2 separate regions of the Homo sapiens genome follow, and region 2 is linked to region 1. The links come from fine-mapping of genetic effects on gene expression. A gene starts in region 1. The other region holds a variant in brackets. All regions are shown on one strand. Distances are from middle to middle. Region 1 holds the start of MOB1B (MOB kinase activator 1B). Region 2 overlaps MOB1B (MOB kinase activator 1B).

Region 1 (2,912 bases):
AGGCAAGGAAAGAAGAGAAATCTTAAGAAAATATCCTTTAAATGCTAATTTCTCCACAACAGTAAAACAGTATATGGGTGAGTTTCAACTTCTAAGTTTTTTATTAGTTTTCTAAACACAGACTAAACATGGAATGAGTGCATCACAACGAAGCCTTCAAAGGAGTTATTCCTCAGGCTGTAACCCCTGTTTTCAGAGGACCTGAGGCTTATCTACTGCCTCCATATCCACATCTGGCCATCCCATCCTTCTGCCCTTCCCCCTCCACGTTCCCCTCCACTCGTCTGGAACAAACGATAAGTAAGTGAAATAATGACCAGCACTAAACATGACGCCAAAGTTGGCATTTACAAATGATTTTCAAAACAACTCCCCAGTGGACCTAATCAACCTAGGCAGGGCACACTATCCAAAACCTATTTGCTGGTTGTCTAAAAAGATAAAACTCATCCTCTTCAGGGAAGTCCTCTGGGAGGAAGGGCGCCTCTAGGAAGCAAGGGGGCGGCTCCAGACCCCTTTCTCAGGGACCCCCGTCTGTGTCCAAGGGATCCCGACCCGCAAGTAGCCTTGTTTCAGTGTTACATCTACAGAACTTGTCATCCCAACTTCCCAGCCCTAAGACGAGAGAGGAAGTTAAAAGGGTCCTGGGATGACAGGGGAAAGTACGACAGTCTTATCTTCTGTGCTTGGGACCCAGAAAAGAGCAATGGGCAGCCGCGACGGAGCCATTCAACCGAGCACCGCTTGGATACGGATTGTGCAGGCGAGTGGGAGATACCCACGAGAAGCGCACAAACAAGCCCGGGAATGCGAGCGAAGGCAGAGACGGGGGTGATGAAGGAATCCAGGCGCTGGCCCCGGGGTGTGCCGGGGGGGAAGAACCTCCTCAGGGCTGCAGGAGCCCACGAGTACTCGAAGCCCTATGGGGAGGCGGCGGTTAGGTAGTCCGAGCGCTCCGCGCAGTCCCGGGGCCCCGCTTGGTGGTGACGCCGGGCCCCGGGAGCGCTGGGCCAGGAGGGTCGGGACGAGGGCGGGCGACGGGCGGCGGGCGGCGGGCGGGGGCCCAGGTCCACCCGAACAAAGCCGGCGCGTGCGGGGCCTGGCTACTCACAACAAGAAGCTCATGTTGGCCGCGGGGCAGGCTGCAGGCTCGGCGGTCGCGAGGCCTCGGAGCGGCGTGGGCCAGGAAAGAAGAGGAAAGGCGAATGGAACAGGAGACAGGGAGGCGGAGGAGGAGGTGCCGAGAGCCGGCTGCTCGGTGGCCGCAACTAGTTCGGCTCAGCTAGTTCCAATGGCAGGGGGAGGGGGCGGAAGTGGGTAGCGCTCGTCTTGAATCACTCCAGGGGAGGGGAAGGAAAGGGAGGCGGGGCAGGCTCTCCGCGAGCCCCTCCCCAGCTCCCCGCCGCCCCCACCTCACGAGCTCTCGCGATAGCGGTGCAAGCCCACCCCGGCCCTCCGGCTGCGGCATGGGGACTCTCACCTTCTGGTCTCCTCTGCTGCTAGGGACGACGCCCAGCGTGTGCGCCGCGGCTGCCCGGCCCCCCTGTCCACCCGGTTAGGAGTCATGGCAGAGCTCTCGGAGCCGCTCAGCTGGGCTCCAGAGGTCAGGGAGGAAGTGGGCTTCAGCTCGGGGATGTCAAGGTCCCGCAGTGAGGGATGGAATTACCACCGGAGTTAGGCCCACCGTGAGTGTCCGGCCAAGGGCGGTGAAAGGTAATGGCATCTCTCAGTTCACCACGGAACCCAGCATGATAGGGTGGTCATCGGTGTAACCACTTAGGGGGCCAAAGCTTGTAAGCATTCTAATGCACAGAACATCCTAGAAGCTAGAAGCTATTCAGACCCACTTACAAAGGGACTTTTATTCTCACAGGGTTATGGGGCCCAGGGCAAGCCTTTATATTCTGTTTAAGAATCCTTCACATACCTTGAATATGTCACCACAGCATTACCAATTTAGGAGGGAAATACGGGTATCGAAGAGATGTCCGTCTTCTTTACTCACAACACCCATCAAATCTACAAGTTTTCAAAGAGAATCTGAGCAAAACAAATCATGTGCAGATATTAGCTCACCTTTGGCTTATCCCAAAGGGCAGAATACACTTTGAAGTAGGTGCAGATATGAAATGTATTATACTGCATATATGCACTATTATTTGGCACGTTGGTAAAGTGGTAAAAAAAAAAAAAAAAAAAAAAAAAAAAAAAAAAAAAAACGTTTTAGGCCGGGCGCAGTGGCTCATGCCTGTAATCCCAGCACTCTGGGAGGCCGAGGTGGGTGGATCACCTGAGGTCAGGAGTTCAAGACCAGCCAAAGTTCAAGACCATGGCCAAACCCCGTCTCTACTAAAAATACAAAAATTAGCCGGGCATGGTGGCACACACTTGTAATCCCAGCTACTCGGGAGGCTGAGGCAGGAGAATTGCTCCAACCCAGGAAGCAGAGGTTGCAGTGAGCCAAGATCATGCCACTACACTCCAGCCTGGGTGACAGAGTTAGACTCCGTCTCAAAAAAAAAATTTTTTAATAGAAGAAAATACTAGAATCTTGCACTATCTCAGGAACAGCAGAGGTTACTGGAATGAGAAAACTTACAGACTCAAAAGATTACCAGATCAGGATAAATAGCTAATGCATGCAGAGCTTAATACCTAGGTGATAAGTTGATAGGTTCAGCACACCACCATGGCACACACGTTTACCTATGTAACAAACCTGCACGTCCTGCACATGTATCCTGGAACTTCAAATTAAATTAAAAATTTTTTAAAAGATTCCCCAAAAAGAAGAAAGAGGAGGATTTATCTGAATGAAAATAATAGATTTATGGTATAAAACCCTGTGCTCCAAATATTGATATGGTACTGACTTACTGTATAATTCTTTTTTTTTTTTTTTTTTTTGAGAC
Region 2 (2,912 bases), 50 kb before region 1:
GAGGCGGGCAGATCACTTAAGGTCAGGAGTTCAAGAACAGCCTGGCCAACATGGTGAAACCCTATCTCTGCTAAAAACACAAAAATTAGCCGGACATGGTGGCAGACGCCTGTAATCCCAGCTACTCGGCTGAGGCAGGAGAATCGCTTGATCCCAGGAGGCGGAGGTTGCAGTGAGCCAAAATTGCACCACTTCACTCCAGGCTGGGCGACAGGGCGAGACTCCAACTCAAAAAAAAAAAAAAAAAAAAAAAAAGACCAAATGACAAAATGACAGAGTCTTCAAATTCAAAAGCATAAATACCCAAGCATGTACACAGAAGTCCTCATCAGTGAGTACAAGCTCTTGTAGCAACACTGTATGCCCAAATGCATACATCTCACATATTTTAAGACATACAAATACAAATCTTCACAAAAATTTTCAAAAACATAAAGTATGCTGCCCTCTTACCCCACCTACCTCAGAAGAAATTACAGTTTCTAGTATCTGGTATAAGCATTAGAAAGTTTTTTTTTTGTTTTTGTTTTGTTTTTTTTTTTTTTTTTGAGACGGCGTCTCGCTCTGTCGCCCAGGCTGGAGCGCAGTGGCACAATCTTGGCTCACTGCAAGCTCCGCCTCCTGGGTTCACACCATTCTCCTGCCTCAGCCTCCCAAGTAGCTGGGTCTACAGGCACCCGCCACCACGGTCACCTAATTTTTTGTATTTTTGGTAGAGACGGGGTTTCACCATTTTAGCCAGGATGGTCTCGATCTCCTGACCTCGTGATCCGCCCACCTCGGCCTCCCAAAGTGCTGGGATTACAGGCATTAGAAAGTTTTGTGCCTGTTTTTATTTGCTTTTACACAGTAGCATAGTGTACTTAATAATGTTTTTCACTTAACATATCCAGAAGACTGTTATATTTAAGATACAAGTAAATCTACTTTATTCTTTCTAAAGACTGAAATAGTATTTCCTTATATATATTATATTATAATATAGTTTGATCAGTCCTTTATTTAAAACATTTAGATTGTTTCCTCCAGTCATCTGCTACCACAAACAACACTGCAGTAAGCATCCTTGTGTGTACGCATGTATGAAGGTTAAATTCCTAGAACTGTTGTTTTAAAGAGCAGTTACATTTTTAAATTTTATATAGTGCCTATTTTTTCCCCAAATAAATTGTACCCTTTTACAATCCCATTAACAAC[A/G]TATGGGAGCAGCCACAACGTACGAAAGTCTTAAAGGACAGGTATTAGATTGCTAATTTCTCTTGTACAGCTTCCAACACAGCATCATAACTATGGAGAATGTTGTGCTTTGTTTTTTTGTTTGTTTGAGACAAGGTCTTGCTCTATTGCCCAGGCAGGAATGCAGGGGCATGATCAATGGCTCAAGTGATCCTCCCACCTCAGCCTCCTGAGTAGCTGTGACTACGCCACCACACCCAGCTAATTTTTTGTATTTTTATTAGAGATGAGGTCTCACTTTGTTGTCCAAGCTGGTCTCGAACTGCTAGGCTCAAGCAATCCCCTCATCTTGGCCTCCCAAAGTGCTGGGAATACAGGCTTGAGCCACCATGCTCAGCCACTATGGAATGCTGACTAGAATGTGAATGATGTATTACATATTAGAGGTATCACATTAATAATTCATTGCATTACTCTACTGCTTTCCAAATAAACATCCACGATATTCACATTTGTTTTCCCATTCTTACTCATATTTGAAGGCAAATCAATTTTTAGAGCAGGACAGGGTGATTTGTCTAGTAAACAACTCAGTCCTAGAGATAGCTCTGAATACATATCTCTTAGTCTTCCAATTTGATTTATCTTTTGCAAATTTCAGTATCATTTATTTTCTCTTTGAGACTCTAAAACAGTGGCTCCCAACCTTTTTGGCACTAGGGACCAGTTTCACGGAAGACAACTTTTCCACAGGGGTTGGCGGGGTGCAGAGCTCAGGTGGAAATGCTTGCTTGCTGGCTGCTCACCTCCTGCTGTGAGGCCCAGTTCCTAACAGTTTTTGTTTTTGTTGTATTACCCCTATTTTTTTTCTGTACCAGATACCTATATATTGACACTGAAGAATATGTAAATTTATTCAAAATTAAAAGCAAATTATTTGTCACACAAATGATTGTAAAATAAATGATTTGTGTTACAAATCATGTATTTGTGCCAACAGCTCCATCTCTTCAAGGTTAAGTGAGTTATTAGTCTAACCACAGCTAGCTAAATGACAGAACCAGGGTCTCGAAGAAGTTACTGTTACTGAGTCTCAGCTTCCTCGTCTACAAAATGGAGATAATAATACCTACCTTACTACTGAAACTTATGTTAAGAACTTCACTACTATTAGTTCTCTCTGCTCCGCCTCTAGGTACTAACCTTTCATTCACATCAGTAGCTCCTTCCATAGGTCTAAGTCCAACACTACAGATCAGGTATTCGATAAATACTTGTTAACTGAAAGTTCCAGTCAACTTCAGGCTGAGAACTCCTACATCAGGATAATAATGATGATTAATATTAACTAACATTTACCGCAAGCTTTGTACTCGCAACTATTTTACATGCAATATATCTCATTTAATCCTAGTAACTCTGATATACAAGCTATTATTTTTCTTTATTTTATGGATGACAAATCTAAGGATTTAAAGTACTTACATACTCTGCTCAAGATTATAAAAGTGGTAAATTAAGGAGCCAAAATTTAAATCCAGGATTTAAATCTCTAAAGACCATTCTTTTTTTTTTTTTTTTTTTTTTGATACAGAGACTTGCTCTGTCACCCAGGCTAGAGGGCTGTGACCCGATCTTGGCTCATCCGCCTCCTGGGTTCAAGCGATTCTCCTGCCTCAGCCTCCTGAGTAGCTGGGACTACAGGCACCCACCACCACGCCCAGCTAATTTTTGTA

The links.
Region 2: its variant is fine-mapped to the expression of MOB1B in blood mononuclear cells (TOPMed, PIP above 0.99). The same link has a PIP of 0.9 or more in non-classical monocytes and whole blood.

Annotation. Positions count from the first base shown.
Region 1 is chr4:70,900,750-70,903,661 of GRCh38, reverse strand. MOB1B (MOB kinase activator 1B) reads right to left here and starts at 1,293. Exons shown (of 6, transcript NM_173468.4): 1 at 1,112-1,293. The coding sequence starts at 1,125. It overlaps LOC124900711 (a long non-coding RNA gene), which reads left to right and starts at 1,431. Exons shown (of 2, transcript XR_007058132.1): 1 at 1,431-1,713. RefSeq lists silencers at 964-1,013, 1,324-1,473.
Region 2 is chr4:70,950,279-70,953,190 of GRCh38, reverse strand. All of the region lies in intron 1 of MOB1B (MOB kinase activator 1B), which reads right to left. Among named protein-coding and RNA genes, the nearest start is that of DCK, 42 kb to the left of the region's middle. The variant A/G (reference allele first, on the strand shown) is at 1,198.